Regions from separate parts of the Homo sapiens genome. Here region 1 is linked to region 2. The links come from fine-mapping of genetic effects on gene expression. Tissue or cell type: lung. Region 2 holds a variant in brackets; the other region holds the start of a gene. All regions are shown on one strand. Distances are between the middles of the regions. Region 1 holds the start of TMPRSS9 (transmembrane serine protease 9). Region 2 overlaps TMPRSS9 (transmembrane serine protease 9).

The links. PIP is the estimated chance that this variant, and not a neighbour inherited with it, causes the effect.
Region 1: it holds the start of TMPRSS9, and the variant in region 2 is fine-mapped to the expression of TMPRSS9 in lung (TOPMed, PIP 0.94).

What each region holds. Positions count from the first base shown.
Region 1 is chr19:2,355,189-2,366,956 of GRCh38, reverse strand. TMPRSS9 (transmembrane serine protease 9) reads right to left here and starts at 6,692. Exons shown (of 19, transcript NM_001395513.1): 1 at 6,597-6,692. RefSeq lists a silencer at 8,162-8,373.
Region 2 is chr19:2,389,300-2,401,067 of GRCh38, reverse strand. It overlaps TMPRSS9 (transmembrane serine protease 9), which reads right to left. Exons shown (of 19, transcript NM_001395513.1): 2 at 11,141-11,307; 3 at 4,402-4,529; 4 at 2,206-2,273; 5 at 1,875-2,050. The coding sequence starts at 11,282. Among named protein-coding and RNA genes, the nearest start is that of TIMM13, 32 kb to the left of the region's middle. RefSeq lists an enhancer at 6,605-6,694. The variant A/G (reference allele first, on the strand shown) is at 5,106.

The DNA.
Region 1 (11,768 bases), 34 kb after region 2:
AGCCACATGAGGACACCAGCTTTGAAGTGGCTCTTCCAGGCCCAGACGAGCTTTCAGATGAGGCAGCCCTGGCCCATGTCTTTTTTTTTTTTTTTTTTTTGAAATGGAGTCTCGCTCTGTCGCCCAGGCTGGAGTGCAGTGGCGCAATCTTGGCTCACTGCAAGCTCCACCTCCTGGGTTCACGCCATTCTCCTGCCTCCGCCTCCTGAGTAGCTGGGACTACAGGTGCCCGCCACCACGCCCGGCTAATTTTTTGTATTTTTAGTAGAGGTGGGGTTTCATCGTGTTAGCCAGGATGGTCTTGATCTCCTGACCTTGTGATCTGCCCTCCTCAGCCTCCCAAAGTGCTGGGATTACAGGCGTGAGCCACCGCACCCAGCCCCTGGCCCATGTCTTAACTGCAACCTCATGAGAGACCATGGGCCAGAACCACCCAGATAAATCACTCCCAAATCCTTGGCCCACAGAAACTGTGACAGAATAAATGTCTGTTGTTTTAATTGGCTAAATTTGAGAGACATTTGTTATGCAGTAACCAAAAACTAATACACAGGACGGCAGGTCCCAGGGCTCTTCTGTCTGGTGTTCCTTATTTACTTTTTTGGTTTTTGAGATAGGGTTTCACTCTGTCACCCAGGCTGGAGTGCACTGATGCTATCACAGCTCACTGAAGCCTCAACCTCCTGGACTCAAGCAATCCTCCCACCTCGGCCGCCTGAGTAGCTAGGACTACAGGTGTGCACCACCACACCCGGCTAATTTTTTAAATTTTTGGTAGAGACAGGGTCTCACTCTCTGCTTTTAATGGCCAATGTTTTCTAGTTGCTCAAAACCATGGTTCAACCTCTCCAAGGAGAAATTCAGGGGGTTCCCTTTTTTTCCAAGCAGTTTCAATAAAACCCAAAGGTTCACCTCAGCTTCATTCTTGAGCTTCTAAATTTCTTCTCTTCTCTTTCTCCATCTCTTTTTTAAAATTATTTATTTATTTATTTTGAGACAGAATCTCACTCTATCACCCAGGCTGGAGTGCAGTGGTGTTATCACAGCTCACTGCAGCCTCCAACTCCTGGGTTGAAGCAATCCTCCCACCTCAGCTTCCTAAATAGTTGGGGCTATGGGTGCACACCACCATGCCTGGCTCATTTTTTTAGTTTTTGTACAGATGGGGTCTTGCTATGTTGCCCAGCTGGTCTCAACTTCCTGTGCTCAAGTGATCCTCCTGCCTCAGCCTCCCAAATAGCTGGGACTACAAGCCTGCACCATCATGCCCCCAGCCTCGGTCTGGGCTCTTTAGCTGTCTTGCCCACCTGTCTGTGTAGTTTTTTTGTTTTTTTTGTTTGTTTGTTTGTTTTTTCCTTCACCTAATCCAAGATGATCACAGTTTTCGGACACGTCCATCCCATTCGATTCCGCATCTTTGGTCCCACGGCAGCCAAAGCCCGTTTATAGAACAGACAGCTGTTGTCTACGCCATGGCCTCTCTTATTTCTTCCTGTCCCCTGTCCTCAGGCCTGAATCTAGTCAGGAAATCCTCCCCTCCTCCATCGCCCCAACATCATGAAATAAATCACTCAGCAAGCCTACAGGAAATTTAATAAGCTTGGTCTCCTTTTTTTTTTCATTTTGTCTATGGTCTTTTTGTTAGGCTTTCATGGGAAGAGGTGTTTGTGAGAAAACTATTTGCAGCAATGGTATCTTGTGTTCTTTTAGCTTTATAATGTGGACAGAGGAGAAAGGAGTCAGTAATCGTGTGGGAGGGAAGACGCCGATAAACATGAGTGATACTAAGGGACCCAGAGGAAAACGCAGAGATTAAAAAATAACCTTCCAATCACTTATGAGTTGTATCATTTAAAATTAATACAGCTCCTAAATGCAATGTGGGATCCTGGATTGCAACGTAGAACAGAAATATTGGTGGGAAGACAGAGTGTGGCACCCACAGTCGTGCGTCAGTTTTGCTCTTTTTTTTTTTTTTGAGATGGAGTCTCGCTCCGTCGCCCAGGCTGGAGTGCAGTGGCGCGATCCTGGCTCACTGCAAGCTCTGCCTCCCGGGTTCACGCCATTCTCCTGCTTCAGCCTCCCGAGATTACAGGCGCCCGCCACCAGGCCCGGCTAATTTTTTTTGTATTTTTAGTAGAGATGGGGTTTCAGCGTGTTAGCCAGGATGGTCTCGATCTCCTGACCTCATGATCGGCCCGCCTCAGCCTCCCAAAGTGCTGGGATTACAGGCGTGAGCCACCGTTCCCGGCCCAGTTTTGCTCTTTGTTCTGTGGTCAAAGGTGTCAACGCAAGGGGACACTGGGTGGAAGGTGGGTGTGCGGGGACTCTCTGCACCATCTTCACAACTAAAATTATCCCCCCCAATTTTTTTTTTCATAAAGGTAAAGTGTAAACAAAACAACAAAGGGCTGGGTGCCGTGGCTCCCGCCTGTAATCTCAGCACTTTGGGAGGCCAAGGTGGGAGGATTCCTTGAGCCCAGGAATTCAAGACCAGCCTGATCAACATAGTGAGATCCCATCTCTGCAAAACAACAACAACAAAGGAAGCCTTATGCAGTTATGAGTGGATCACCCAGAATATGTTATCCTCTGCATCCATTTCAGAGCAACACACAGAAACATCAATGGCTTAGAACAGCCTGCAGGGCTGCGTCAACCATCAACTTCAATAAAACCCCAAGGTTCGCCTCAGCTTCATTCTTGGGCTTCTAAATTTCTTCTATTTATGCGTCTTTCATTCATTCATTCATTCATTCATTCACTTATTTATTTGAGACAGGGTCTCACTCCGTCACCCAGGCTGGAGTGCAGTGGTGTGATCACAGTTCACTGCAGCCTCCAACTCCCGGGCTCAAGCGATCCTCCCATCTCAGCCTCCTGAGTAGCTGGGACTACAGGTGCTGGGTCTACAGGACTACCGGGAGGCTGAGATGTGCTTATACCAACAGCGTCCTGTTGGTGTAGGGCTCATAGGCTTATGAGAGTTGATCCAGCCCTCCCAATAATCCCAGGGTATACAGGAGACAGGTCCAGCTAATATCAGCATGCCCATTTACAGAGGAGGAGATTAAGGCTCTCTCTGCCTCTCCCTCCCTCCCTCCCTCCCACTCTCACTCTCTCTCTCTCTCTCACACACACACGCGCGCACGCACACACACACACACTCACACACAGAGTTCTTGGAATTCTAGTGACTCCTCCACATTGCTGGGCAGCTTCCCTGTTATGCTCCCCGAGAACCCTGCTCCCCAGCTAAGCCAGGTGAGCCTGGGGGACCGAGGGGCGCAGGGCCGGGAGCTCTAAACCCTGCCCCAGTGTCGGCACCCAGGGTCCAGTCCTGCCTCCCCAAGCACCAGCTCCATCACCCACAGTTGCACGCACAGATGCACGGGGAATCACGCGACCTCACTCCCTCCCACACTCTCGCCTGTCCCCCCACCCCCCCACAACTGCTCCTACCTCAAATCTCCACCCATGTGTCTGCCATCAGAGAAGGGACGCCTTTGCCTTCATTCCGCCCTCACCTGCGATCCATCTACCATGCCTCCACGTCTCCGCAAAGCCCTTAACCAACCACAGTGACAACAGGGTTTGAACTCCGATGCTCCAGCGTTCCTGCAAGCTCTCGCCCCGCGGACAGAGTCCCCAGCCTGGGCAACCGGCCACCAACACCTTTTGCCTAAGGACTCTCCAAGCTCCGTATTTTACACCCTAAACATTCCAAATTCTGCAAAGGGAATTTTAGACAGTCCAAGAATGCTCTTTAGGGACGGGACCCAGCGCGCAGTGGGCCACATGGTCCCCAACTCACGTTCACACGCTGTGGGCAGCGGGGCACACACGGACTCCCATTCCGCGTGGCAGGACAAGCAGGCGGCGTGAGGCTCTGCAGGGCCCAATTACCCCACGGTCAGGCCAGCCTGAGCGCTGGGACCCTGATCCCCATGCCCCAGATGAGAAGACTAGGAAGAGGGGATTTGCACACACAACCACAACCTCACACAACACACACACAACACACAACCACACACAACACATTACCACACACAACCTCACACAACCAAACACAACCACACATTACAACCTCACACAACCACACACCACAACCACACACACCCTCACAAAACACACCTCACACAACCACATACAACCACACACAACCTCACTCCACCATCCACAAATTATACACAATCTCATCATGCAAGTACACACACAACCACGTTACAACTCCACAAATCTCACATACAATGACCATACAGCTAAACACAACTTCACACATATAGTCATACACTGATACAATCACAACTCCACCATACACAGTCATACAGACACGATTACACATATTGCCACAATCATATGCAATCACACACAAACACAATTATACAACCATACACAACCACACAAAGCCATCCACAAAATCATGCAATTCTCATCATGCAATCACACACACAACCGTACACTATAACCACACAGCTGCAGAAACCTCCCATACAACACACAACCATACACGGTCTCACACATGCAGTCACACACCCATACACACAATTACACCTCCACCACAATCACAGGCACAATGACACACATGGCTGCACAGTCACACAATCTCGCACAACCACACACAATCCTATACAATCACACAAACATCATGACATAACTATACGCAACCACACATGACCACACAACTATACACACAGTTATACAGCCATCGACACACAACCATATACGATCCCACCCGACCACACAATTACACAACCATACACAATCACGCATGACATGACACATGACCACACACAACCATACACAATCACACAATTACACAACATAAACGATCACTCATGACCCCACACACACATATAATACACAATCACACACAAATCACATGGCCATATGCAGCTACAGACACAATTATATATATTGCCACACACAACCACACATCACACACAATCACATGATCACACACAATCACACACAGCCACACAGACAACTCACCCAGAATCTCACACAGCCCCACCCAGCCAGGCCCCCAGGAAGGCGTCAGGAAGCCAGGACCACAGGTGTCCTGCGGGGCATCCCTGATCTGCAAGGCGGTGGCCACCACGCGGCCCACAAGGTGTTTCCGGCCATGCAGTCCTGCGGGGCAGTGCCTGAACCCTTTGGCAAGTCCCCAAAACCTCTGGCAACCTCTGGAGCCCATGCCTGGGTCCGAGGCCTGGTTTGACCCCCTATAAAATGACGGAAGGAAGTCGAAGGTCCCTGGGCCACAGAGGACCCTCGAGCACGGACGCCTGTCCTGGGGACCCCGCCCTAATTCCCAGAATGTGGGTCATTCCCGGTCATGCGGGGATAACGCCACGGTCCCCAGCCTGGGTTTCCTGCCGGGGCTAATTGAATCCAGGAGGACCCTCCCTCAGGCAAATACCAACAACCCACCCCATCTCAGGCCCTTCACCCACCTCCAATTGTTACATCCCAGTGTGTGTTTACTCAGAAGCGGCTCCGAGGGTGAGAACTGGGGCGGGAGGAGAGGCTCCAGTCAGATGCCTGGCACCCACTCCAGCCCCGCCTCCCACCCCAGCCCCCCCTCCCACCCCAGACTCACCTCCCACCCCATCCCAGCCCCGCACCCCACCCCACCAACCCATCCCAGCCCTGCACCCCACCAACCCATCCCAGCACCCCACCCCATCCCAACCCTGCACCCTACCCCAGCCCCACCTCCCACCCCAGCCTCCCACCCCAGCCCCACCTCCCACCCCAGCCTCCCACCCCAGCCCCGCACCACACCCCAGACTCACCTCCCACCCCAGCCCTGCACCCCATCCCAGTAGCTGTCAGCCCCTTTCCCGCCACCCCTGACCCCAGAGGGCTCCAGGCTGATGCTTGGTTCTTGCTTTAGGTGAAGTTCACGGGTAGAAAAGAAGGGAGGACTCTGGGTGGGAACAGGGATGGGGAGGGCTTCGGCGGTCCCAGGCCCCTCCAGGAACTAGGCCGAATCTACACACCCCAGCTGTATCTACACATCTCAGCTGCATCCACACAATCCCGGCTACGTCCACACACCCTGGCGGCATCTACCCAGCCTGGCCTCGTCTAGAAATCTCAGCCACATCTACACACGCTAGATACATCCACACAATCCCGGCTGCGTCCACACAACCCTACGTGCATCTACACACCACACCTGAGTCCACACAACCCCGGCCGCATCCACACGCCACACCTGCGTCCACATAACCCCCGCCGCATCTACACACCACACCTGCGTCCACACAACCCCTGCCGCATCTACACGCCGCACCTGCGTCCACACAACCCCGGCCACATCTACACGCGGCACCTGAGTCCACACAACCCTGGCCGCATCTACACAACCTGGCCATGTCTACACACCCCAGTGGCGTCCACACAGCCCCGGCTGCCTCTCCACAACCCCGGTGGTGTCTACACAGCCTGGCTGCATCTACACACTCCCGCCACGCCACCTCTACACAGCCCCAGAGGCAACCAAACAGCCCCGGGGCTTGGCGAATGGGGTTGGAGGAAGTGGGGGCTGTTCCGAGGGGAGGCTGAGCCCGCAGGAGACCCCGACTCACCGGGGTTGGAGGAAGTGGGGGCTGTTCCGAGGGGAGGCTGAGCCCGCAGGAGACCCCGACTCACCGCGCTCCGGACGACGAGGCTGCACCGCTACTGCCCGGATCCCGCCCACCCCGAAGTGGAGCAGAAGCCGGAGCTGGGCCCGGGGCTGGAGGAAGGGAGGGGCGGGGCGGGGCCGGGTGGGGGAGCCGCCCCTCCCCCGGCCCCCTGCCAAGCCCCTTCCCCAGTACCTCCTGCTCCGGGCCGGGGGTGCCGCCCAGGCTTGGAGTCTCCGGAGGACAGGGGTCCCAGGGCTCTGCCACCTCCACCCTGGATTCCCAACCCTGGCGGGAGCCAACCCAGAGTGGAAGACGATGGAGATGGGGAGGGGTTGGGGGTAGCCAGGGATGGGAGTGGGCTTCGCAGCTGGGAGCCATGGGGTGGGGGTTGCCCGCAGAGTGGGCGCTGTGGGCAGGTGGGCCCACCTGGGCAGGTGACTCAGGACAGGGCGCAGGGAGGGGTGTGCCCAGGACAGCCCTGGGGGCGAGGTGCTGAGGGCGTTTTCTAGGGCACTGGTGTAACCATTTTGTGTGTGTGTGTGTGTGTGTGTGTGTGTGTGTGTTTTGAGACAGGGTCTCATTCTCTGTCGCCCAGGCTGGATTGCAGTGGCGCGATCTTAGCTCACTGCAGCCTTGACCTCCCGGGCTCAGGTGATCCTCCCACCTCAGAGTCTGGAGTAGCTGAGACTACAGCCGCCTGCCACCACACCAGGCTAATTTTTGTATTTTTAGTAGAGATGGGGGTCTCACCATGTTGCCCGGGAAGGAACTACAGTATTTTTAATATAAATTTTTAATTTTTTAAAAAAATAGAGATGGGGTCTTGCCATGTTGCCCAGGCTGGTCTCGAACTCCTGGGCTCAAGCCATCCTCCCACCTCGACCTCCCAAAGCGCTGGGATTACAGGAGTCAGCAACGTGCCCAGCCTAAACGTTTTAGAAGAGTTTTAGATTCCCACAAAATGTGCAAAGACAGTTCAGAACTCCCCTGTGCGCCACATCCCGGGTCCCCTGTTACTGGCATCCAGGCCAGTGTGATACATTTGTCACAACCAATGAACAACTATTGATGCACGACTGTGAAGTCCACACTTGATTCCAGTTTCCTCAGTTTCCCCCAATGCCCTTTCCTGCTCAGGGCCCCACCCGAGATCCCACGTGGCATTTAGGCGTCACGCCTCCTCGGATCTCTCTGGGCTGTCGCAGTTTCCCAGACATTCCTATTTCTGACACCCTGCCCGCTCCTGGGGAAGGCAGGTCAGGTGTTTTGCAGGACACGCCTCAAGTGGGTTTGTCTGGTGCTTTTCTCCCTCATGGTCAGACTGGGTGGCCTCAGTTTTGACGCGCCACCCGCTGCCACGCTGGCCGCCCCTCCTGCTTAGGTCACCAGGTTGTTCACGTTCCTCCGTGCCGTCGAAGGAGACGGTGCACTTCGTTAGAACCACTGTCTCCTCTCTTATCTCAAGAGACTTTGCGGAAATTTTTTTTGGAACTGCCTTTAGAGACCAGCCCCATTTTATTACCTTTGGCAGAGCGTCTTTGTTGGTGATTTGCTTTTGAGAAGTGCCGCAAGTCCCGGGGAGCCACGCCTGGTGCTGGAGGGAGAGCAGTCCTGGAGGATCCAGCTCCTGGGTCCACGTTTCCCCAGTCGCCCGCAGAATGGTCCAGTCTACTGAGTATGTGCTGTGTGCCCGGCACTCGGCAGGGACTCCCCTAGGTTCTCATGATGGCCTCACAAAAGTAGCTGTCACCTCCTTTTAAGCAGAAGAAGTGGCTACAGCCCTGAGAGCCAGTCATCCAGCTCCTGGGATTCAAGCTGGGGCTCCACACCCAGGGCCTCCTATTGCTGCATTCTTCTGCCCACCCTCCTGTCAGGCTGCAGGCTGCGGTTGGTTCCCAAGAGGCATTTCTAACCTGCTCTGAGCCGTGTGGAGAAGAGCCTGTGACCCCATGGGAACCCCCTCCTCTCTTCCTCAGGGCCATTGGTGGACTCTTTCCAGAACTCCACCCTCTCACCTTCTGATGACTTCCCACCTGGCCCCAAACACTGAGTCCCGGTTCCTCGTGCAGCTATAGCAGCTCTCTGCCTGGGCCAGACGGGGTGCTTAGTAGAGGACCTGGCACACAGCAGTGAAGAGTGGTGGGTGGATGAGTGTGTGTGGATGGGTGGATGGGTGGTTGGGTGGATGGAGGGATGGATGGATGGATGGACAGACGGACGGTAAATGGGTGAATGGATAGATGGGTGTGTGTGTGGATAAATGGATAGATGGGTGTGTGTGTGGATAAATGGATAGATGGGTGTGTGTGTGGATGGGTGGGTGAGTGGGTGGATGAATGGATGAGTGGATGGGTGGATGGATGGATGGATGGGTGGGTGAGTAGACAGGTGGATAGATGGGTAAATGGATGAGTGGGTGGGTGGGTGGAAGGTGGGTGGATGGATGGTTGAATGGAAGGGCAAATGGATGGATGGGTGGGTGGGTAGATGGATGGATGGGTGGGTGGGCAGATGGATGGATGGGTGGAGGGGTAAATAATGGGTGGATGGATGGGCAAATGGATGGATGAGTGGAGGGGTGGGTAGATGGATGAATGGCTAGATGGGCAGGTAGATGGATGGATGGATTGGTGGGTGGGTGGATAGGTGGATGGATGGATAAATGGGTGGGTGGGTGGATGAATGAATGGGTAGATGGGTGGATGGGTGGATAGATGGGTGAGTGGGTGGTTGAATGGATGGATGAATGGATGGATGGATGGATGGATGGATGGATGGATGGATGGATAGATGGATGAATGGGTGTGTGGATGGGTGGGTGTGTGGGTGAGTGGATGGTTGGGTGTGTAGATGGATGGATGGATGGATGGATGGATGGATGGATGGATGGATGGATGGATGAATAGATGTGTGAATGGGTAAATGGATGGACAAATGGATGGTGGATCAATGGATGGAGACGGATGGGTGGATAAGTAGGTGGATGGGTGTGTGGATGGGTGGCTGGATGGATGGATATGTGGATAAGTGGATGGGTGGTTGGATAACTGGGTGGATGGGTATGTGGATAGGTGGATGGATGGTTGGATAAATGGATAGGTGTGTGGATGGGTGGGTGGGTGGGCGGGTGGATGGACGGATAGATGGATGGGTGTGTGGATGGATGTTGGATAAATGGATGGGTGGATAGATGAATGAGTGGATGGATGGGTAGATAAATGGATGAGTGGGTGGATAGGTGAATGGGTGGATGAATGGGTGGATAAATGGGTGGATGGGTGTGTGGATAGATGGTTGGATAAATGAGTGGATGGAGGGTATGTGTATGGACGGATGGATAACTGAACAGACAGGTGGGTGAATGGGTGGGTGTGTGGATGAACAGATGGATAAATGTGTGGACAGATGGTTGCATAAATGGGTGGGTGGGTGGGTGGATGGATGCATGGACGGATGGATGGATGGACAGACGGACGGACGGATGGATGGATGGTTACATAAATGGGTGGGTGGGTGGATGGATGGATGGGTGGATGGCCAGTTGGATAAATGGATGGATAGGTGGGTGGATAAAAAATGTGTAAGCTCTGGTCAGCTTAGTGAAAGAAAATCACTATTGTTACCATATTGCTCCACTTTGTAACTTAAACTGCAAGACAGAGGGATGCTCCCCACGAAAAGAAACAAAATACCCTCCCCAGTGCCAACAAGCAGCCTGTTTCCATTTCCCCAGCTCTACCTCTCCCTGACATCCCTGGACCGTGTGTGACCTGGACAGTCGAGGTGTGCACACCCCCCGGAGCTCAGGCACCGGCTGAGCCTGGCAGGAGCCCGTCTTCCTGAATCAAGTGTGTCACTAGCACAAAAGTCCCGACTGCTTCTAAGCGTCCAATCAGATGGCTGATTTGGTGACATCCTGGCTGTCGTGCCTTGCAGTAGGTACATTACTAACCCTCTTTCCAGAGGACAGGGAGTTGGAGGCAGAGGGACTTGCCCACGACCGCAGGTGGTCACAGGTGGACGTGGTGTGAGCCCAGGGCTCTGTGCGCTGAGTCCTGACTGTAACTTTCAGCCCTGAGGCTCAGGTCCACCGGAGCTAATGACATAGCGACTTTTTCTTTTCCTGGACAGGACAAATCACCACTAGAGGCACACAGGGGAGGTGTTCAGAGCCAGCGCCGAGTGGCCTCCGAGCAGTGAGCTCCCCCGTGGAAAGGCAATTGGGGGTGCTCCTTCTGGAGCGTATCGAGGAACTGCTCAAGTTAAAAAACCGAAACCTAAGTGTGACTTCAAGTATTCTGGAATTCGCTTTCCGTGATTAAGCCGTCCCTTCCCCAGTGGGTTTGAATTCAGGTTTGCTGTGAGTGGTAAGGCCTGAGCCTCCATCTCCCGCTGCGTCCTCACCCTGTTCCACATTAAGGCCAAGGGCGTCACGCTGCCAGGCAGTCGTGGTTTGGCTCAGGGCCTGGAGGAATCCATGTCTCTGATCCCTCACAGCCATGTGGCCTCAGAGGCTTGCTGGTGGCCTTTTTTTTTTTTGGAGACAAGGTCTCGCTCTGTTACCCAGGCTGGAGTGCAGTGGTGCGATCACAGTTCACTGCAGCCTTGACCTCCTGGGCTCAAGTAATTCTCCCACCCCAGCCTCCTGAACAGCTGGGACTACAGGTGTGTGCCACCACACCCAGGTAATTTGTGTAGAAATGGGGTCTTGCTACGTTGCCCAGGCTGGTCTTAAACTCCCAGGCTCAAGCAATCCTCCCACCTCAGCCTCCCAAAGCACTGGGGTTACAGGCGTGAGCCACCATGCCCAGCCTGGGTCTCACTTTCTCTAACGTAGCGGAGAACTTTGTGAGACTAGAACAACACACACAGCAGCCCCTGATGCCTGGCAGATGCTCAGGACTCACTGGCCTCTCGGCCCGCACACAAACCCGCATCCATCACCCACGTGCCCACAGGCCCAGCGCCAGCCAGCAGCAGCTGGAAACCAAACCTTGTCCCAAAGCGGCTAAGACAGGTCTTTGCATTTTTAAAGAGAAAAAAATAATAATAAACTCTTTTGAGACGTGAGGATGCTATACAATTCCAATTTCAGGGTCTGGCGAGAAAATTACTTGAGGGATGGGCGTGGTG
Region 2 (11,768 bases):
CTCCTGACCTTGTGATCTGCCCACCTCGGCCTCCTAAAGTGCTGGGATTACAGGCGTAAGCCACCGCGCCCGGCCATTTTTTTTTTTTTTTTAAGACAGAGTCTCACTCTGTTACCCAGGCTACAGTGCAGTGGTGCTATCTTGGCTCACTGCAACCTCCACCTCCACCAGGTTTAAGCAATTCTCCTGCCTCAGCCTCCCAAGTAGCTGGGATTATAGGCGCCCGCCACCATGCCCGGCTAATTTTTTTATTTTTAGTAGAGATGGGGTTTCACCGTGTTGGCCCGGCTGGTCTCAAACTCCTGACCTCAGGTGATCCACCCACCTCGGCCTCCCAAAGTGCTGGGATTACAGGCATGAGCCACCACACCTGGCAACAAATCTTTAACAATGGTCTGAACTTGCATCTGACTCTCCAATCATGACCTGCTGCACCGTACAATTTTGTTTTTTATTTTTTAAAACCAGGTGCATACAAAATCATGCACTGTATAATTTTATTTTTTATTTTTATTAATTTTTTTTTGAGATGGAGTCTCACTCTGTCACCCAGGCTGGAGTGCAGTAGTGCAACCTTGGCTCACTGCAACCTCCGCCTCCTGGGTTCCAGCAATTCTCCTGCCTCAGCCTCCTGAGCAGCTGGGATTACAGGCACGTGCCACCACACCCAGCTCATTTTTGTATTTTTAGTAGAGACGGGGTTTCGCCATGTTGGCCAGGCTGGTCTCGAACTCCTGATCTGAAGTGATCAGCCCACCTTGGCCTCCCAAATTGCTGGAATTACAGGCATAAGCCACCACACCCGGCCTTCCATACAATTTTATTAGAGTGTAGCATTTATCCTTGATTCTACAGTAGGGGGTTGGCCAACTACGGCCATAGGCCAAATCCAGCCCACTGCTTGTTATTTTTAATAAGTTTTATTGGTAAACAGCCACACCTATTCATTTATGTATTGTCTGTGGCTACTTTTGTGCTACAAATAACAGAGCTGAGTGCTTGTCACAGAAACCCAACGGACCACAAAGATGAAAATATTAACTGGGCACGTGGCTCACACCTATAATCCCAGCACTTTGGGAGGCCAAGGCAGGAGGATCACCTGAGGTCAGGAGTCCAAGACCAGCCCAGTACACATGGTGAAACCCCATCTCACTAAAAATACAAAAATTAGCCAGGCGTGGTGGTGCGTGCCTGTAATCCCAGCTACTCGGGAGTGAGTCGGGAGCTACTGAGGCAGGAAAATTGCTTGAACCTGGGAGGCAGAAGCTGCAGTGAGCCAAGACTTCATTATTGCACTCCAGACTGGGCAACAGAGTGAGATCCTGTCTCAAAAATAAAAAAAATGGAAAAGAAAAGAGAAGACAAGACAAGACAACACAACACAACACAACACTCTGGCTCTTTACAGAACAAGATGGCTGACCCCTTATCCACACCATTAAGGCAAAGGCAATGTCAGTTTTTACATTTGTTTGTTTGTTTGTTTTTGAAACGAAGTTTCACTCTTTTTGCCCAGGCTGGAGTGCAATGGCACGATCTCGGCTCACTGCAACCTCCGCCTCCCAGGTTGAAGCAGTTCTCCTGCCTCAGCCTCCTGTGTAGGTAGGATTACAGGTGCACACCACCACGCCCAACTGATTTTTGTATTTTTAGTACAGATGGGGTGTTGGCCAGGCTGGTCTCAAACTCCTGACCTCAGGTGATCCACCCGCCTCGGCCTCCCAAAATGCTGGGGTTGCAGGCATGAGCCACCACACCCGGCCAGTTTGTTTTCTTTTTATGGGAAGGGGTGGTTATCAAAATGTATCTTGCAGCTCCTGCCCCACTCCAGCCTCCTCGTGATGGGGTTTCGGTCTCGGCTGCCCACTCACCTGTGAGCTCAGCCGACACAATTGTGCCATAGGCAGCCAGGGAGATGCCGTGCTCCCGCAGCCTTGCCCGGATCCCTCGCTGCAATAGCTCCTCCTCCAGGCCCAGGCTCAGCGTCTGGAGGGGTCGCAGCAGAAAGTGCAGCTGGAAATGTACGAGGACACTGGAGTTCCCATCCCTACAGGTATGGAGGAGAGGCCCTTGGAGAGGGAGGGGCTCCGCCCTGCTGGAATCTTCTGGAATCTTCTAGAATCTTCCAAACTTTTCTGGACTCCTCCAGAAACTCCCAGATGTCCACCAAGTTTCCTTCACCCAATGGAAGCTCCAACTCACCTATAATTCAGTACCGAGCAACCCACGCAGCTTGCCTCTAACTCTGTCTTCTGAAAACTACTTACAAACTGCAATAGAAACAAGAATATCAAATGTTGAGACCCACAGCATGGGCACCCTGGCACTGCAGAGGCCTGTCAGGTGTTGGAGGGAGCTGGAGAAGGGGTTGGTTCCATGGGAAAGCATTTCCTTTTATTATTTTAAATTTTTATCTATATGTACGTATGTATGTATGTATGTATTGTGAGACAGAGTCTTGCTCTGTCACCCAGGCTGGAGTGCAGTAGTGCATTCTCCACTCACTGCAACCTCCGCCTCCCAGGTTCAAGCGATTCTGCTGCCTCAGCCTCCCAAGAAGCTGGGATTACAGGTGCCCGCCACCATGCCCAACTAATTTTTTGTATTTTTAGTAGAAATGGGGTTTCACTATGTTGGCCAGGCTGGTCTCGAACTCCTGACCTTGTGATCCACCTGCCTTGGTTTTCCACAGTGCTAGGATTACAGTTGTGAGCCACCACGCCCAGACTTATGTTTTATTTTTAAATTTTTTATTATTATTATTATTTTGAGACAGAGTCTTGCTCTGTCGCCTGGGGTGGAGTGCAGTGGCACGATCTCGGCTCATTGCAACTTCCGTCTCTCAGGTTCAAGCAATTCTCCTGCCTCAGCCTCCCAAGTAGCTGGGATTACAGGCACACACCACCATGCGTGGCTAATTTTTTGTATTTTTTAGTAGGGACAGGGTTTCACTATGTTGGCCAGGCTGGTCTTGAACTCCTGACCTCGTGATCCGCCCACCTCAGCCTCCCAAATTAGCTGGGCATGGTGGTGTGTGCCTGCACTCCCAGCTACTCGGGAGGCTGAGGTGGGAGGATTGCTTGAGCCCAGGAGGCGTCACAGGCGTGAGCCACCACGCCCAGCCTATTTTTAAAAATTGTTTTTTAAGATGGAGTCTCACTCGGTCACCCAGGCTGGAGTGCAATGGCACGATCTTGGCTCACTGCAACTTCTGCCTCCTGGGCTCAGGCAATCCTCCCACCTCAGCCTCCCGAGTAGCTGAGACTACAGGCACACACCACCACGCCCCGCTAATTTTTGTGTTTTTACTAATGGTGGGATTTTGTCATGTTGCTCAGGCTGGTCTCAAAACTCCTGACCTCAGGTATCCACTCTCCTCGGCCTCCCAAAGTGCTGGGATTACAGATGTGAGCCACCCACCGTGCCCGCCTGGAGTGCTGTTTTTAATACGTGATTGCTGATGTGGTCACACGTCTGTTTCTCTTCGAATAAAATGGAAAACATTATTTTTTCATTAAAATATAATTCGCTGTGTCCTGTGTCCAAGCCTGGCCCCTTTTCCTGGCTGAGTCATATTCCAGTGTGTGCATAGCCACGCTGTGTTTCCCTGTTCATCCTAGGTGGTGGGTGCCTGTAACCCTGGCTACTCAGGAGGCTGAGACAGGAGAATCGCTTGAACCCGGGAGGCAGAGGTTGCAGTGAGCCATGATCCTGCCACTGCACTCCAGCCTGGACAACAGAGCAAGACTCCGTCTCAAAAAAATAAAATAAAATACCTTCCCCCAGCTGTGCATGAGGGCTCTGATTCCCCTTTAGAATAAAATGTAAAACTCTAAATGTGGCAGGTTGGGTACGGTGACTCACGCCTGTAATCCCAGCACTTTGGGAGGCCGTGGAGGGAAGATCATTTGAGGTCAGGAGTTCAAGACCATCCTGTCCTACATGGTGAAACCCCGTCTCTACTAAAAATACAAAAATCAGCTGGACGTGGTGGCGTGCACCTGTAATCCCAGCTACTCGGGAGGCTGAGGCAGGAGAATCGCTTGAACCTGAGCAGCGGAGCTTGCAGTGAGCCGAGATCATTCCACTGCACCCCAGCCTGGGTGACAGAGTGAGACTCCGTCTCAAGAAAAAAAAGAAAAAAAAAAAAACCTCTAAATGTGGCCTAAAGTCCCATGTGAGTGTGTCCTCAGTGGATACAGCTCTGCCTTGCAGGTATCTGCCTTGGCCACCTGGCCTCGTCCTGCCCGCCCCCTGGCCTGGCCTCCCGGTCTCACAGCCTCCACCTCAGCTTCGTTGCCTGTGGCCTGCCTCCCTCCCACACGGAAAGCACCTCCAGGTCAAAGCCCCCGGCCACCCGCTCTTCCTCCCTGGCCCCCAAACACAGACCACCCTCACCAGTGCCTCCAGGGTGGGCGTCAGCGTGCGGTGATAGTCCGAGGTCTCCCGCCGCAAACTGCTGGTCCACCGGATTCCCCGCAGCTCGGCCGTGTGGTCCACGTGGAAGCCCTGTGTAGAGAGGAAGGCTGGGGACGAGACCAGGGCCCGTGAGAGAGCCCACCTTTGGGGGCTCAGGGCTCCGCTGAGCTGCCACCCAGGCCCCGCCCTGTTTGCACTCACACACCCTGGTGGTCACTCCTGACACGCAGTGGGGTGGTCGACGCCCCCGTGATAGCCCTGAATAGCTACTCACAGGGCTCTCCCTCAATTCCCAAAAGCATCCTGGTTTGGAGCCGAATTCTATGACAGCCACCCACCCGGAGGTCCCCAGGTACAGCACAAGGTGGATGAGTGCCAAGTGAGCCCCAGATGCCCCCGTGTTTTCCTCGAAGGCAGAAAGAGGTCCTGCTCATGCCTGTCTCCCATGCAGTGCCTGGCCCAGGATCTGAGCTGACTTCAGGGCGTAACCTCTGGAATGGCATCAGGAGACGGTGAAATGACAGTCCCCGCCTCCTATGGCAGGGGCATGAGCACAGCCAGAGGCCATCAGGACTCTCCGGCCACAGTCCCATGAGGTCATCTTCAAAAACCACTGGTTGGTTTGTGTTTGTTTGTTTGAGACAGAGTCTCGCTCTGTCGCCCAGGCTGGAGTGCGGTGGCGC[A/G]ATCTCGGCTCACTGCAAGCTGCGCCTCCCGGGTTCATGCCATTCTCCTGCCTCAGCCTCCCGAGTAGCTGGGACTACAGGCACCCACGACCACGCGTGGCTAATTTTTTTGTATTTTTAGTAGAGACGGGATTTCACTGTGTTAGCCAGGATGGTCTCTATCTCCTGACCTCGTGATCCGCCCTCCTCGGCCTCCCAAAGTGCTCAGATTACAGGCGTGAGCCACCACACCCGGCCTGTTTGTTTTGAGACAGAGTTTTGCTCTTGTTGCCCACACTGGAGTGCAATGGCATGATCTCGCCTCACTGTAACCTCCGCCTCCCGGGTTCAAGCAATTCTCCTGCCGCCTCAGCCTCCGGAGTAGCTGAGATTACAGGCATGCACCACCATACCCAGCTAGTACAGATGGGGTTTCTCCATGTTGGCCAGGCTGGTCTCAAACTCCCGACCTCAGATGATCCGCCAGCCTTGGCTTCCCAAAGCACTGGGATTAACAGGCATGAGCCACCGCGCCCGGCCTTGTTTGTTTTGAGATAGGGTCTCACTCTGTCACCCAGGCTGGAGTGCAGTGGTGTTTTCTCAGCTCGCTGCAACCTCCATCTCCCGGGTTCAAGCGATCCTCCTGCCTCAGCCTCCTGCCTCAACCTGCTGAGTAGCTGGGATTACAGGCGTGGACCACCACACCTGGCTAGTTTTTTTGTATTTTTAGTACAGACTGGATTTCACCATGTTGGCCAGGCTGCTCTGGAACTCCTGACCTCAGGTGATCCACCCGCCTTGGCCTCCCGAAGTGCTGAGATTACAGGCGTGAGCCACTGCACCCAGCGTTAATTTTTGTATTTTTAGCAGAGATGGGGTTTCGCCACATTGGCCAGGCTGGTCGGGAACTCCTGACCTCAGGTGATCTGCCCGCCTCAGCCTGCCAAAGTGCCGGGATGACAGGCGTGAGCCACCACGCCAGGCAGAAAGCACTGGTTTTTAGCTGTTGGCTGTGTTGTGTCCAAAGTACAAAGTACAGCAAAAATAATAGTCATAAAAAATTCCTATGCTGATGCAAGCAGCAGCAGAAAAAAATCTAAATAAAAACTACGAGAGCAACCACAGAAACCATGAGAGCACGAGTTTTGGTCAAAAATACGTTAAAACTACCAGAAGTGCACACCAGCGCAAAAAAAATGGCCGTAATTACAACATTTAAACCATGCAAATAGCAACCGCGTAAACCGTGAAAGCTGGGTCCCAATTCCGTTTATCCTAAATGGATAGATATGCTAGATGGGTATTTACGTAGCCATATATTCAGTAGATAGAATATTCTGAACCAATTCTAAAAACGGTATGTTTTCTCGTTCAAGAAACTAAAGAAACACGAGCACCCTGGTGGGCGGACTGAATTGCCCCGCCTCTGTGTCCCAACCTCACTCTGTTTCTACTCTAAACAACTGCAGATTCAGGAAGTTGCAGAAATAGTTCAGAACGCCTCCCGCTCTCCACTCAGCCTCTCATCTCCAACTAAAATGGTGAGCTGTTTGCGAAGGGCTGAATTCTCATTTTTATTTTTTTAAATGTTTTATTTTTTTGAGACAAGGTCTCTATTGTTCGGGCTTCAGTGCAGTGGCACAATCACTGCTCACTGCAGCCTCGACCTCATGGGCTCAGGTGATCCTCCTGCCTTAGCCTCCCAAGTAGCTAGACCACAGAGACCACAGGCGCCCACTATCACGCCTGGCTGGCTAGCTTTCTCTTTCCTTCTCTTTTCTTGACACAGTCTCACACTCTGTTGCCAGGCTGGGATGCAGTGGCACGATCTTGGCTCAGTGCAACCTCTGCCTCCTGGGTCCAAGCGATTCCCTTGCCTTAGCTTCCCGAGTAGCTAGGACTACAGGCACATGCCACCATGACCAACTAATGTTTTTTGTATTTTAGTAGAGACGGGGTTTCATCATGTTGGCCAGGATGGTTTCAATCTCCTGACCTCATGATCCGCCCAACCCGGCCTCCCAGAGTGCTGGGATTACAGGTGGGAGCCACCGCGCCCAGCTTTTTTTTTTTTTTTTTTTTTTTGGAGACATGGTCTCCCTTTGTTGCCCAGGTTGGAGTGCAGTGGCATGATCTCGGCTCACTGCAACCTCCACTTCCCGGGTTCAAGCAATTCTCCAACCTCAGCCTCCTGAGTAGCTGGGATTACAGGCGCGTACCAGTCTGCCCAGCTAATTTTTGTATTTTAGTAAAGACAGGGTTTCACCCATGTTGGCCAGGCTGGTCTCAAACTCCTGACCTCATGATCTACCTGCCTCAGCCTCCCAAAGTGCTGGGATTACCGGGGTGAGCTACTATGCCTGGCCCTGGCTAATTGTTTGCATTCTTTTGTAGAGACAGGGTTTCCCCATGTTACTGTGTCCGAAATTCGTGGGTTCTTGGTCTCACTGACTTCAAGAATGAAGCTGCGGATCCTCACGCTGAGTGTTACATTTCTTAAAGATGGTGTGTCCGGAGTTTGTTCTTGCTGATGTTCGGATGTGTTCGGAATTTCTTCCTTCTGGTGGGTTCGTGGTCTTGCTTGCTTCAGGAGTGACGCTGTAGACCTTCCCAGGGAGTGTTGCAGCTCTTAAGGCAGCGTGTCTGGAGTTGTTCATTCCTCCTGGTGGGTTTGTGGTTTTGCTGGCCTCAGGAGTGAAACTGCAGACCTTCACAGTGAGTGTTACAGCTCATAAAAGCATCTCACACCCAACGAGTGAGCAGCAGCAAGATTTCTCGCAGAGAATTAAAAAACAAATCCTCTACACTGTGAAAAGGTCCCCAAGCCGGTTGCCGCTGCTGGCTCCAGCAGTCCGCTTTTATTCCCTTATCTGGCCCCACCCACATCCTCCTGATTGGCCCATTTTACAGAGCGCTGATTGGTCCATTTTACAGAGAGCTGACTGGTCCGTTTTGACAGGGTGCTGATTGGTGTGTTTACAATCCCTGAGCTAGACGCAGGGTGCTGATTGGTGCATTTACAAATCTTTAGCTAGACACAAAAGTTCTCCAAGTCCCCACTAGATTAGCTAGACACAGAACACTGATTGGTGCGATTGGTGCATTTGCAAACCTTGAGCTAGACACAGGGTGCTCATTGGTGCATTTACAAACCTTTAGCTAGACTTAAAATTTCTCCAAGTCCCCACTAGATTAGCTAGACACAGAGCACTGATTGGTGTGTTTATAAACCTTGAGCTAGACACAGAGTGCTTATTGGTGCATTTACAATCCTCTAGTTAGACATAAAAGTTATCCAAGTCCCCACCAGATTAGCTAGACACAGAGTGTTCACTGGTGCATATACAATCCTCCAGCTAGACATAACAATTCTTCAAGTCCCCACTCGACTCAGGAGCCCAGCTGGCTTCGCCCGGCCCTGGCTAATTTTCTGCATTTTTTGTAGAGACAGGGTTTCACCATGTTACCAGGCTGAACTGGAACTCCTGGGCTCAAGCAATCCTCCCGTTTCAGCGTCCCAGAGAGCTGGGATTACTGGCGTGAGCCACTACGCCTGGCATCATGTCCTTTTTTCTTTTTCTTTTTTATTTTTTATCAGGGTGTCACTCTGTCTCCCAAGCTGGAGTGCAGTGGTGTGATCATAGCTCACTGCAGGCTCCAACTCCTGGGCTCAAGCAATCCTCCCACCTCAGTCTCCCGAGTAGCAGGGACTACTGGCACGCACAACCACTCATTTTCACTGAAAACATTATAAAATTTTAATTTTAAATGTTTCTTGTCTTCATTATTTAATTTTTTGTAGAGATGGGGTCTTGCTATGTTGCCTAGGTTGGTCTCGAACTCCTGAGCTCAAGCAATCCTCCTGCCTCAGCCTCCCAGAGTGCTGGGATTACAGGCAGGAGCCACCACACTTGGCCTTAAGTGCTTCTTGAAAGACTTCCTGATGGGGCGTGGTGGCTCATGTCTGTAATCCCAGCACTTTCGGAGGCCAAGGCAGGTGGATCACTTGAGGTCAGCAGTTTGAGACCATCCTGGCCAATATGGCAAAACCCTATCTCTACTAAAAATACAAAAATTAGCTCGGCGTAGTGGCACACACCTGTAATCTCAGCTACCCAGGAGGCTGAGGCAGGAGAATCGCTTGAACCTGGGTGGTGGAGGTTGTGATGAGCTGAGATTGTGCCACTGCACTCTGTCGCGCCTGGGAGACAGAGTGAGACTCCATCTCAAAAAAAAAAAAAAAGACTTCCTTTCCTTTCAGGGGGGTCCTGATGGGAATTATATTTATCTGTTTTTCCCAAAATGTATTTGTTACAATGCAGATGAGAAACTCTGCCCCGCCCCTGCCTCTCACTAGGTGATGGACACACACACACACACACGCATGCACACATAGATACACACGCAGACACACACATGCATGCACAAACGCATGCAAATGAACACGTGTGCACCATGCACACACTCATGAACACACAAATACACTCACACGAGGAACCCAAATTGTATTGTACTTGGTACCTACAGCCACTAGAGGGCCTCAGTCAAACATGTCTGGCTCTGGGAGTTTCCAGAAGTTCCACAAATATTTTTTAAAAAAAAGAAAAAAGAAAAAAAAAAACCTAGGAGGATTCTCATAGGATCGCGAACTTACTATTTTGCCACACGAGAGCATTTCTCCCCAAATTGCTGTTTATTATCATCATTTAAATGTTAAAATTAACTTTTTTTTTTTTTTTTTTTTTTGAGATGGAATTGCTCTGTTGCCCAGGCTGGACTGCAAGGGCATGATCTCGGCTCACTGCAATCTCTGCCTCCTCCTGGGCTCAAGCAATTCTCCTGCCTCAGCCTCCCAAGTAGCTGGGATAACAGGCGTGCACCACCATGCTCAGCTATCTTCCTTCCTTCCTGCCTACCTGCCTGCCTGCCTCCCTCCCTCCCTCCCTCCCTTTCTTTCTTTCTTTCTTTCTTGTATTTTTAGTAGAGATGGGGTTTCACCATGTTGGTCAGGGTGGTCTCGAACTCCTGACCTCATGATCTGCTCACTTCAGCCTCCCAAAAAGTTGAGATTACAGGTATGAGCCACTGCACCCGGCCTTATTTTAAATTTATTATTATGTTTTTATTTTTTGAGATAGAGTCTCACTCTGTCACCCAGGCTGGAGTGCAGTGGTGCGATCTCAGCTCACTGCAACCTCTGCCTCCCAGGTTCAAGCGATTCTCCTGCCTCAGCCTCCTGAGTAGCTGGGACTGCAGGTGCCACCACGCCTGGGTAATTTTTTGTATTTTCTGTAGAGGCAGGGCTTTATCATGTTGCCTAGGCTGTTCTCAAACTCCTGGGCTCCGATGGTCCTCCCGCCTCAGCCTCCCAAAGTGCTGGGATTACAGGCGGGAGCCACCACGCCCAACCCAGTTGCTCGGTTTTATAAAAATACTTTTGGGGCCGGGCGCGGTGGCTCATGCCTGTAATCCCAGCACTTTGGGAGGCTGAGGCGGGCGGATCATGAGGTCAGGAGATCGAGACCATCCTGGCTAACACGGTGAAACCCCGTCTCTACTAAAAATACAAAAAATTAGCCGGGGGTGGTGGCGGGCGCCTGTAGTCCCAGCTACTCGGGGAGGCTGACACAGGAGAACGGTGTGAACCCGGGAGGTGGAGCTTGCAGTGAGCCGAGATATCACACCACTGCACTCCAGCCTGGGCGACAGAGAGAGACTCCGTCTCAAAAAAAAAAAAAAACAAAAAAAAAAACTACTTTGGGTATTTTGCTGATTTGCCAAAATTTAAAACAAGGTCATTTCCCTGTCTCTGTTTCTCTGTCACCCCAGCTGTGAAAACTTCCTTCGGGAGCTTCTTTAGTCGGGAAAACTGACACACGTAGGAACTCATCTGCTCCACTCCCCGCCCACCCGCCTGGCCTAGGGCAGCCTTCATCTCCACGCCTAGACACTGCCCTTTGATTCCAGATGGCCAAGGAGACACCATCAAGTCACTTCCCGGTGACTTTGCACATGTCCCTTGTATTGCGAACCCAGCCAATCCCATAGCCACTTACCCAAAAGGACTCCCAGGGTGAGGACGACAAGGCTGGTGGCCACCACGCCAATGCTGGCCGCTCGACAGCACGCGGCATCCAGAGCGGGGACTTCCTTGGTTGTCCTGGGCACGAGGTGTACGTCAGCCACAGTGGGCTCCATGGCTCAGAGACACGCAGACAGCGAGCTGGATGCCACACAGCAAGACAGAAACACGGGGTCAGAGGCTGAAGGTGCTTCTCTTCCCATAAGCAAGGGTTGCAACTATACCCTTAAAAACGGCGGGGCGCGGTGGCTCACGCCTGTCATCCCAGCACTTTGGGAGGCTGAGGCAGGAGGACGATTTGAGGTCGGGAATTCCAGATCAGCCCGGCCAACATGGAGAAACCCCATCTCTACTAAAAATCCAAAATTAGCCAGGCATGTTGGTGCACACCTGTAATCCAGCTACCCAGGAGGCTGAGGCAGGAGAATCGCTTGAACCCGGGAGGCGGAGGCTGCAGTGAACCGAGATCACGCTACTGCACTCCAGCCCGGGTGACAGAGCGAGACTCCAAAAAAAAAAAAAAAAAAGACCAGATGCGGTGGCTTATGCCTGTAATCCCAGCACTTTGGGAGGCCAAGGTGGGTGAATCACTTGAGGTCAAG